3 linked regions of the Homo sapiens genome follow. The protein of the gene in region 2 interacts with the protein of the main gene of each other region in a pairwise test. Each region holds a gene or a part of one and is shown on either strand. Other genes may lie near its edges. The genes, in order: ZBTB44, GLRX3 and CA9.

Region 1 (3,652 bases), on a different chromosome or scaffold from region 2:
GTATTTCTGTTTCTAGATTCATGAGGAATCGCCACACTGTCTTCCACAATGGTTGAACTAGTTTACAGTCCCACCAACAGTGTAAAAGCATTTCCTATTTCTCCACATCCTCAACAGCATCTGTTGTTTCCAGACTTTTTAATGATCACCATTCTAACTGGTGTGAGATGGTATCTCATTAAATTTCCATATGAAATTTAAAGGAGTTTTTTCCAATTCCGTGAAGAAAGTCAATGGTAACTTGATGGGGATAGCACTGAATCTATAAATTACTTTGGGCAATATGGCCATTTTCACGATATTGATTCTTCCTATCCATGAGCATGGAATGTCTTCCCATTTATTTGTGTCCTCTCTTATTTTCTTGAGCAGTGGTTTGTAGTTCTTGAAGAGGTCTTTCACATCCCTTGTAAGTTATATTCCTAGGTATTTTATTCTCTTTGTAGTAATTGTGAATGGGAGTTCACTCGTGATTTGGCTCTCTGTTACTGGTGCACAGGAATGCTTGTGATTTTTTATCACAAAGTGTTCAGGAATAAAAGTCCAGGGCTGGTACAGTGAATCTGCAATATAATCAGTGGCCTAGGCAACTTGTATATTTATAAACTGCCATCTTTACTTTGTTGGTTTCATCCATAAGATGCTCATTTCATCTTCAGCTTTGTATTCTAGAAAGGGGCAATGCTTTGTATCAAGAAAGCACCTATGTTCTCAGAAATCCCTAAAAAACTTCTGCTAGTCTGTGTCACATAGTCTTTCCTAGCTGCAAGGGAATCTGGGAAGATAATGTATATTAGTTGGGTACCTAAATGCCTTGAACAAAATTAGAGCAAAATGGATATTGAGTATGCAACTAGCAGTGTCTGCCACAAGTAGGCCAAGTAAGCTTGGATTTTATCTTAGTGGTAGGTAGTAAGGAGTCTACATTAAAGGGATAAAAACAAAAACATGCAGATATTTTAGGAAAACTGTTATTGACATGCAGTGAGTTTGGTTTTACAGAGACAGTCTCAGAGACCAATTGCAGTGCACTTATCTTGGTGTGAATGAAGACTTAAAACCATGTGAAAGAAAATAGATATTACAAGACTTTGTAAAGAAAGACTTAGTACCTGATGATACTGAATATGTATATTGAAAGAACAGGAGAGGTTAAAGTACTCTGATGACTAGGAAATAATGGTAACACTTTATTATATTCCATTGATTCTAAGTCACAATTTTTCATATTTTGTTATTTCTGAATCCAGATATGTCTTACAGTTGGCAGTCTTCTACAGTTGCTTTTTTCTTCCTTAGTGCTATAGAGAATAATGGCAATCATATGAATCAATAGCATTTTAGCATCTATTAAATGTAGTTAGTGCCGTATGAAAATCAGTGGAAGGTGGTGGGAATCCAGTTTTGAGAGTAAATTATCAAGGTCACTTCTGTGTAAATTGTGCTTGGATGATGATCAAGCAGTGTCATTTCAAAAGCAGTAGAAAAGATAAGTGAGATTCCCAACTTGGGACTTTTCTACTAGTAGTGGCAAATTCAATCTCAATAGGAAAAACAGAAGAGCCAAAACCAAGGGGATACCTTGGGGAATACCTATATTCAGGTTTGGGAAGGGATAGAAGAAAAGCCACTAGTGAATAATAAAGATTTGTCCAAAATATTGGAGAACCGGGAAGACCATATTAACTTTGTTAGTTTCTTGTGCTTTTACCCTCTGTGTGAGTTTCCCTGGGCTGCTGCAACAAAGTACCGCAAACTGAATGGTTTAAAAAAAATTTATTCTCTCATAGTCAGAGGCCAGAAATCTGAACGACAGGTGTTAGTTCCCTTTGAAGGATCTTTCTCTCTTTGAAGATTGTAGGGAAGAATCCTTCCTTGTCTCTTCCAGCCTGTGGCAGCTGCCCACAATCCTTGGTGTTCTTTGGCTTGTAGCTCCAGTATATGATATTGTGCTTTAGTATATGCGTTCGTCTTCACATGACCTTCCCTGTCTCTCTGTTTTGCCACTGGCTTCAAATCTCTCTCTCCCTAAAAGGACACCAGTCATTGGATTCAGGTCCCACCCTAATCCAGCATGACCTCATCTTAACTTGATTACATCTGCTAAGACCCTATTTCCAAATAAGGTCACATACATTGGTAGCAAGGATTAAGATGTACTTTTTCTTTTTTTTTTTTTTTTTTTTTAAGATCTGGGATGCATGTGCTGAACATGCAAGTTGTGTTTTTGGGTATTTTATTTTCTTTGTAGCAATTATGAATGGAAGTTCACTCATGATTTGGCTCTCTGCTTGTCTATTACTGGTGTATAGGAACGCTTGTGATTTTTGCACATTGATTTTGTATCCCGAGACTTTGCTGAAGTTGTTTATCAGCTTGAGTTTTGGGGCAGAGACAGTGGGGTTTTCTAAATATACAATTATGTCATCTGCAAACAGAGACAATTTGACCTTCTCTCTTCTTATTTGAATACCCTTGACTTCCTCTCTTCCTATTTGAATACTCTTTCTTTCTCTTGCCTGATTGCTCTGGCCAGAACTTCCAGTACTGTGTTGAATAGGGGTGGTGAGAGAGAGCATCCTTGTCTTGTGCCGGTTTTCAAAGGGAATGCTTTCTGCTTTTACTCATTCGGTATGATACTGTCTATGGATTTGTCATAAATAGCTCTTAATATTTTGAGATATGTTCCATCAATACCTAGTTTATTCAGAGTTTTTAGCATGAAGGGGTGTTGAATTTTTATTTTTAATTTTTATTTATTTATTTATTTTTGAGACGGAGTCTCACTCTGTCACCAGGCTGGAGTGCAGTGGTGTGATCTCAGCTCATTCAAGCAATTCTTCTGCCTCAGCCTCCTGAGTAGCTGGGACTACAGACGCATGCCACCACACCCAGCTAATTTTTGTATTTTTAGTAGAGATGGGATTTCACCATGTTGGCCAGGATGGTCTCGATCTCTTGACCTCGTGATCCGCCTGCCTCGGCGTCCCAAAATGCTGGGATTACAGGCGTGAGCCACCACGCCCAGCCAGGGTGTTGAATTTTATTGAAGGCCTTTTCTGCGTCTATTGAGATAATCGTGGTTTTTGTCATTGGTTCTGTTTTACGTGATGGATTACGTTTATTGATCTGCGTGTGTTGAACCAGCCTTGCGTTCCAGGGATGAAGCCAACTCGATCCTGGTGGATAAGCTTTTTGATATTCTGCTGGATTCAGTTTGTCAGTATTTTATTGAGGACTTTCACATCAATGTTCATCAGGTATATTGGCCTGGTATTTTCTTTTTTTGTGTTGTGCCTCTGCCAGGTTTTGGAATCAGGATGTTGCTGACCTCATAAAATGAGTTAGGGAGGAGTCCCTCTTTTTCTGTTGTTAGGAATGGTACCAGCTTCTCTTCGTACCTTTGGTAGAATTCAGCTGTGAATCTGTCTGGTGAATCTGTCTGGTGCTGGGCTTTTTTTGGTTGGTAGGCTATTTCAGGAGAGTTTATAGCATGAAGGGGTGTTTTTTTTTTTTTTTTTTTTTTTGAGGTTTTGCCTCAACTTTAGAATTTGTTATTGGTCTATTCAGGGATTCAGCTTCTTCCTAGTTTAGTCTTGGGAGGGTGTATATGTCCAGGAATTTTCGTCTAGATTTTCTAGTTTATTTGCGA
Region 2 (3,652 bases):
TCGATCTCTTGACCTCGGACCTGCCTTGGCCTCCCAAAGTGCTGGGATTACAGGCATGAGCTACCGCATCCAGCCTCATTTATTTTTACATTACAGAATACTAACACTTTTTTGAGTTTATGAAAATCTTAAGCTTTTTTCATGCCACAGGACTCCAAATTCCAGCAATCTTGTGGAAAAGATATGGTACCATGTCAACATTTTAATAGCCCCAATAACATTGTTTCCAAAATGTATTAATACTTTCTAGGTTTCCAGAAAAAAATAGTTTTGAGAATAAATATCCACTTAAACCATTACCGAGAATAAGAAAAAATGTCACTTTATCATTACTAGGAATTATTAACTTCCTCTATTGTTTCAATACACTGAACCAAAATCAAAGAATTTAGGCCCTAACCTAATGTTTCCAACATGCTGAAATTTATATTAACATTTTCTTTGTTACTGTTACTTTCATTATTACCTAATTATATTAACCAGTTATGTTAACTAATTAGCTTCATTATACTAGTTATGTTAACTTATACACTAGTTATGGCAACCAGAGTCTGCCCTGTGAAGTATTGTGTCCCTTTCCCAATGAGCAAAGTGGTTCTCCATGTCACTTGCCCGGTGCATCTTGCTAACAAGTGAGGCAGTTTCTTTATTCCAACAGCCTCACCTTTCAAAACTTTGGTTTCTTTATCTCTAAAACAGGCCAAAGTCTGTCCAACCCTGCCTACTTCAACAACTGATTGAGAATTAAGTAGAGGTTCAATTGCTATGAAAATTACAAAATATGATATAAATGTGTATGGCTGGTTTCTGGAAATTACCACTCTGATCTCAATCTGAAAGAAAATTAGTTCTGCTCAAACTATCGGTGGAAGTAATCTATCAAACTTGATATTCAAAATGACGCATAATCAATATGTACTTACATCAAAAAGCTGTAAGAACCATCCCATTAAAAATGAGAATTGCTGACCATTTCACTCATTCATCAAACACACAGAGCACACCTGCTACAGCCAGGGTTTGCTCCTCCACTGTCACAAAAGGACGATCTAGGGGTGCAAACCCAAGCACGACCAGGTTCCCTGCATTCAGGAAGTCCACTGACTCAGCTGCACACTTCAGCAGTCCACAAACTCAAACAAAGGATAATGACATAACAACTCATACAACCAGTAAAGTGTTAACAGTGTTGACCACATTAGCTGACAAAGTTTGGCAGCAGAAAGAAATGCACCCCACTGAGATGTTGATGATAAAGTCAAGCAAAATGTAGATTACTTTGTTTGATCTCCGTAAGCACCAATTAAGGCGTGGATAACTTCCTGATATCGCTACAGCTTCATTAGCTAAAGCTAGGAAAAAGATTTAACTGTCCCCTTGTTGCAGATGTTAACATCAAAAGAAATTACAAATAAAACCATTTTTGAGTTCTTTACCTGTTTGTTTCCTTTCATAAAGAGCATCACAGAAGCTTTATTTGTCAGCACTTTGAGCCTAAAGAGAGAAAATTGATATAAAACGGCTCAGCTCAATTATGCAACACCACTTTTCCTCCGCTTCGTGAGTAACATGCATATTTGAGGGATGGCAGGATGACAGTTCACAGCTTTGAGTGGTATTAAACAAGCAAATGCGTTGACATTTTCCTTGATTTCATTCTCTCCCTAAGCCACTGTAAAACACAATATGGCTTTTAAGGCAACGAATGTTCCTTCAAGTTGCAATTTAAGCCCATCAACTCACAGTAATAAAAAAATAATAATAATAACCAATTCAGTAAGGAATTGTTCAATAAGGGGCCTATATATTAAGCCCATCCAAAACTTCCAGAACTAGATCTTGTGTGCACCATCTTCCATCATGATGCTGCATACCACTGTACACGTGTAAAGCTCACAAGGTCGGACTGCAGGGTGACAGCGTTAAACCTCAGAACATCAACTAATGCCAGATACTAAAATCAAATTCTCTCATCTTAACATGTTTTATATTTTATATAGTCTTTCAAACATCATAATCTAACATGCTGTCAGGAATTTTAATTATCTGTATACAGCCACAAGTTTAGTCACAAATCTCAAGAAAAGTCAGTGCTGGGACAACGGGTCACTAAAGAACCTAAGCCCCATGGGGTCACGCCACCATGTTCTCCCAATTCACAGCTCAAAAATCTCCTTAGAGGTTGGGCGCGGTGGCTCACGCCTGTAATCCCAGCACTTTGGGAGGCTGAGGCAGGTGGATCACGAGGTCAGGAGATCAAGACCATCCTGGCAAAACACGGTGAAACCCCGTCTCCACTAAAAAGTACAAAAGAATTAGCCGGACGTGGTGGCGGACGCCTGTGGTCACGGCTACCCGGGAGGCTGAGGCAGGAGAATGGTGTGAACCCGGGAGGCGGAGCTTGCAGTGAGCCAAGATAGCACCACTGCACTCCAGCCTGGGCTACAGAGCCAGAGTCCGTCTCAAAAAAAAATAATAATAAATATCCTTATAAACTCATCCCAAATGAAATGCATCAATCACGCACAAAGCTGTATCACTTACATTGCCAACCGAGTGGGATTAGCTCAAGTTCAGAAAAATATGAACAGATATAGGAATACAATGCTGACCCTGACAACCCAACTAACTAACCCAGTCACCTGGATACAGGGAACCACAGCTCACAAAGTACTGCCAAAATACATGTCACAAGTCCATGAACTCCACTTCCTACACTCTGCTCACTCGGAGCCCTTTAAATTATTACTCCAAATATGCTGAATTTTCCTTCCGACATAATTCTAGCCCGTTACCCTTTGGTGTCTGCAAGCACAGATTTAGAAGCAGCACATTAGGAAACGGAGGTCTGATGGAGACAAGGCCATTAACAGCGGCAAGTGCACTCAGCAGAGAAGGAAAATCAACTGAAGAGCAAATACAAGCATATAAAAAACACAGCTGTCTTTGGAGACCACACAGCCTCCATGGGCCAAGGGCATCACCAGGCTACAGGCAAGAACCACACATGAAGACGCCCAGAGTCAAAAAAGGGATGAGGAGTATCATTTTCTCATGAAGAACACAGGAAATGGTACCAACCACAGGACAGAATGCGGCACTCAAAGATCAGCCTGACATACGTGGATTGGACGCTGTTTATAGAAATTATTAATTAACGACAGACAAATGAGGTATTTATTATTATTAAACACTTTTAGAAATTCTCAAGATGTTACATGGCAAAAAAAAATTACCAAAGGAAGGTTTATCTTACAATCTCCAGCCCCAACTATGAATGGCTGATTGCTGATATAATAAATTCCTTTTTAAAGTTCTATATTAATTTTACTGCAATAAAAATCCCATTAAGTTGCCTTACACACCAAAGTCCAACATTTCTGTAAGAGAACGTCTCTAAAAGCCAAGTGAGATCCTTGATAAAACAAATACATGTTTCACACCTCCAAAATCTGTTCATGTAAGTTCTCGTGGTCTAGAAAGGCCATGAGAAGTGCTCAAAGCTTGTTGCGAGGTGATGAGTTTTTCACACTCACCACTTGTCACTCAGTGCTCTGGCGTTGGGGCAGCACCCGCAGCAGTCACCAAGGCTGCACCCAGTAAAACACGAGTGTGCTGAGGTTACGCCAAGGAGCAGTGACAAAACAACTGG
Region 3 (3,752 bases), on a different chromosome or scaffold from region 2:
GCCGGCCCCGCCCGGTAGGGCCAGCCCAACCCCCGGGCAGGCACTGCCGCGACGGTTCCCTTCCCTGCGCCCCGCCCCATCCCCAAGTCTCGGCGGGGAGACCCCCTCACCACTGTGGCCATTGTTGCGCAGGCGCAGTTCTGGGAGCGGCGGGAGCTGGAAGCCCAGGAGTTCCAGGGGGCGCAGGGCCGGGCAGAAGGCGGCGAGCTGGGGGCGGATATCCACCGGGGACTGGAAGCGGCCCGCGCAGGCTGGGGACACCCGGGGCCAGGGCGGGTCGCCTGGGGTGGGAGAGTATAGTGAGGAAGTCTGACGCCTAGGTCAGGAACTTAGGGAACCCGGGTAGAAAAGGTGAGGGGGTGGGACGGTGGGCGGCGGGTGGGACGCCCGGGACCAGTGTTCAGGGACGGCTGTAGGGGAGATCCACAGAGCTGGGTTCCCAGATTGGGTCTGTGCAGCGGGTGGGTGTCTCACCTCCATAGCGCCAATGACTCTGGTCATCCCCTGTATAAATGAAAAGGATGAACCGCTCAAGCTTAGAGCCCCAATCCCTTCCTGGCGACCAAAACGATGTCACAAACGCAGATGCCTTACAGGAGCATTACGGGTAACAAATGCCTTAAGCGGGCCAGGTGCAAAGCACAGGAGACCGCACCCAAACTCAACACCGCAGCTGGGTGGGCCAAACAGCAATCCTACCAGCTTGCAATCATTGTCTTAGGGTCTGTAAAAGTGAGTGGCTGCTTCAGGCCAGGCGCTGTGGCTCACGCCTATAATCCCAGCACTTTGGGAGGCCAGGGTGGTTGGATCACCTGAGATCAGGAGTTCGAGACCAGCCTGACCAACATGGCGAAACCCCGTCTCTACTAAAAATACAAAAATTAGCCGGGCGTGGTGGCGCATGCCTGTAATCGCAGCTACTTGGCTAGAGGCTGAGGCAGGAGAATCACTTGAACCCGGGAGGTGGAGGTTGCAGTGAGCCGAGATCGCGCCATTGCACTCCAGCCTGGGCAACAAAAGTGAAAGTTTGTCTCAAAAAAAAAAAAAAAAAAAGTGAGTGGGCACTTCAGTCCTGAGTCCCAAATGAGTGAGTACACCATCTTTCCTTTCTCCCTTCTTTCTTCTCCCCACTCATCCCTCTGCCTTGTATGGTCTCCAACCCCTTTCCCCAAATTCCTGGCTTGGGAGTCAAGAAGCCACGTTTCTCTACCTGCTGTGTCCCTTCTTCCTAGGTCTCAATTTCCTCATTGTAGCCTAAGATGAGATGACTTCTACCAGCTCTTCTTGCTTGTCTCTGGTACCCACTTCACCTCCCAAGCTTTCCTTTTCTCTTCCCCTCAAACTCTCTGACTCTCCTTCTCCACCTATTTTTTTCCTCTGTCTGCACATTTTTTCTCTCATCTGCAGTTCTCATCCCTTTCTCTTCTCCAGCCTCCCCCTTCTCTCCCATCTCATCCAGCTCACCTCTCTCCTTTTGCACCCTTTTTATTTTCTCTCCACATCTGTCCCTTTCTACCTCCGAGAGTGGGGATGGGGATATTGGTATGGGACCTCTGGAAGGGCTTCTGTGGGGAGTACAGTCTCCCCTCCTTCCCTGAGTGAACAGAGCCTAGGCTGGGGTATGGGAGGGGAGTCATGAACCTCCTGGAACCTGGATTTGGAGATTGATGACCACTTACCTTCTTTGTCCCTGTGGGCATTATTCTGGGGTTCTTGAGGATCTCCAGGAGCCTCAACAGTAGGTAGATCCTCTAACTTCAGGGAGCCCTCTTCTTCTGATTTAGGCTTAACTTCAGGTAGATCCTCCTCTCCAGGTAGATCCTCCTCTCCAGGTAGATCCTCCTCTCCGGGTGGATCCTCCTCTCTGGGTGAATCCTCTTCACTGGGCAGATCCTCCTCGCCCAGTGGGTCATCTTCCCCAGAAGAGCCTCCTCCCAAGGGGGAATCCTCCTGCATCCGGGGCAACCTCTGGGGATGGACAGGCACCAGAAGCAGCAGTGACAGCAGCAGTTGCACAGTGAGGCCTGGAGCAGGGGCCGGGATCAACAGAGGGAGCCAGGGGCTGGGGCACAGGGGAGCCATGCGGCTGACTGTGGGGTGTCCCAGCACACGGTGTGTACGGGCTGTACGTGCATTGGAAACGAGAGCTGGGTGGGGGAGGAGCAAGCCTGGAGGGGAGCAGGCTGACTCACAGAGCGCCCTTTTGCAGAGATGGAGCCAAAGTCTCACAGGTTTGTCTGGCCCTGTGCCCTCTCCCCCATACCAAAGCTAGGATGGGGGTGGAGTGAGGGGCAGGTGTGTGCACAGGCAGAAGGTTATCGGGGCCATGGACTCAGCTTGGAACCCAAGGCACCACCTGGCACTATGCAGGCTCTCCCTGGCACCACCCAGCTGCTTGCCAGCCAGCCTCAGCTAACCCTGGCCTGCTTCCCAGCTCCAGGCACAGAAGGGGAAAGGCAGGGGAGCTGGGGCCCCCATGTCCTCTGGCTGAGAGGGAAAGCAGCTCATGTATACATCCCTGACTCCACCAGGAAGCAGGTAAAGAGGTAGGGCAGGCTGCTAGGGGAGCCCGAGGGTGAGTTAAGTAATGGGTATGTGGGAGACAAACTTGAGCTTGAATGAAAAGCAAGTGTATGTGTCAGAGGGGCTCTGATAGGTTTAACCTATATTTATTTTTCAACACATTACTCTCCTGCTCAAAAGCCTTCATTGGCTCCCCACTGCCTGCCACGATATGCACATTGTGTACTTCTGACTTCCAACTTCCTTCAAAACCTTGCCCAAGAGACCTTTCCATCTTGTCTCCTACTACTCTCCCTCATACTCTAGCCAAATTAAACTATTATTTTTTTCTCCAAACCTTTTACCACCTTTGTTAATCTAGTTCTTGCTCCCTGAAATGCTATTTACTATTGCATTCAACAAATATTTATTTAGTACTACCATAGGTCCAGCACTGGGCTATGGACTAGGGACATGGAAATGAATAAGACACGGTCCCTCATTTTGGGAGGCTGAGGTGGGTGGATTGCTTGAGTCCAGGAGTTCGAGACCAGCCCGGGCAACATGGCCAAACCCTGTCTCTACTAGAAATACAAAAAAATTAGCCAGGTGTAATGGCATGTGCCTGTAGTCCCAGCTACTCAGGAGGCTGAAATGGGATGATGGTTTGAGCCGAGGCGGTTGAGGCTGCAGTGAGCTGAGACTGTACCATTGCACTCTGGCCTGGGTGACAGAGCAAGACCCTGTCTCAAAAAAGAAAAACAAAAACAAAAACAAAAAACGCTACCTGCCCTGAGCAGCTCACAATCTAGTGAGTGAGGGCAAACCCTGTCAATATCATCATATTGAGGGAAGAGAGATGAATTCTGCTTTAGAAGATAATATAGAAGTAGGCAAATTTGATCATGTCCTTGAAGAAATACCAGTTCCATTGGTAAAAACAATAGGGAGAATGATATTCTGGGCAAAGGGAAGGCATAAAATATTATGAGCAGGAGAGTGACAGAATCCAGTTCTCATACTAGGTCACGTTGAGGGCTTGAGGGCTAGTATGGAGCACAGATTGCAGGGGAAGACTGGGTGCAAGGAGATGGGGCAGAAGAGTGTGAGGACACCAAGAATGGGCTTAGGCCTCCCAGTTTTTTTCTTTTCTTTTCTTTTTCTTTTCTTTTCTTTCTTTTTTTTTTTTTTTGAGACAGAGTCGCACTCTGCTACCCAGGCTGGAGTGAAGTGGCGCGATCTCGGCCCAC

What was found.
Region 1: the proteins of GLRX3 (region 2) and ZBTB44 interact in binary tests that used the Homo sapiens proteins (3 or more experiments, as listed by UniProt).
Region 3: the proteins of GLRX3 (region 2) and CA9 interact in binary tests that used the Homo sapiens proteins (3 or more experiments, as listed by UniProt).

What each region holds. Positions count from the first base shown.
Region 1 is NC_000011.10:130,255,774-130,259,425, reverse strand, and holds part of ZBTB44 (zinc finger and BTB domain-containing protein 44), read left to right. Parts: intron 1-3,652. UniProt on the Homo sapiens protein: May be involved in transcriptional regulation.
Region 2 is NC_000010.11:130,167,275-130,170,926, reverse strand, and holds part of GLRX3 (glutaredoxin-3), read right to left. Parts: intron 1,495-3,652; coding exon 1,437-1,494; intron 1-1,436. UniProt on the Homo sapiens protein: Together with BOLA2, acts as a cytosolic iron-sulfur (Fe-S) cluster assembly factor that facilitates [2Fe-2S] cluster insertion into a subset of cytosolic proteins.
Region 3 is NC_000009.12:35,672,290-35,676,041, reverse strand, and holds the start of CA9 (carbonic anhydrase 9 precursor), read right to left. Parts: upstream 2,115-3,752; 5' UTR 2,083-2,114; coding exon 1,680-2,082; intron 505-1,679; coding exon 475-504; intron 282-474; coding exon 111-281; intron 1-110. UniProt on the Homo sapiens protein: Catalyzes the interconversion between carbon dioxide and water and the dissociated ions of carbonic acid (i.e. bicarbonate and hydrogen ions).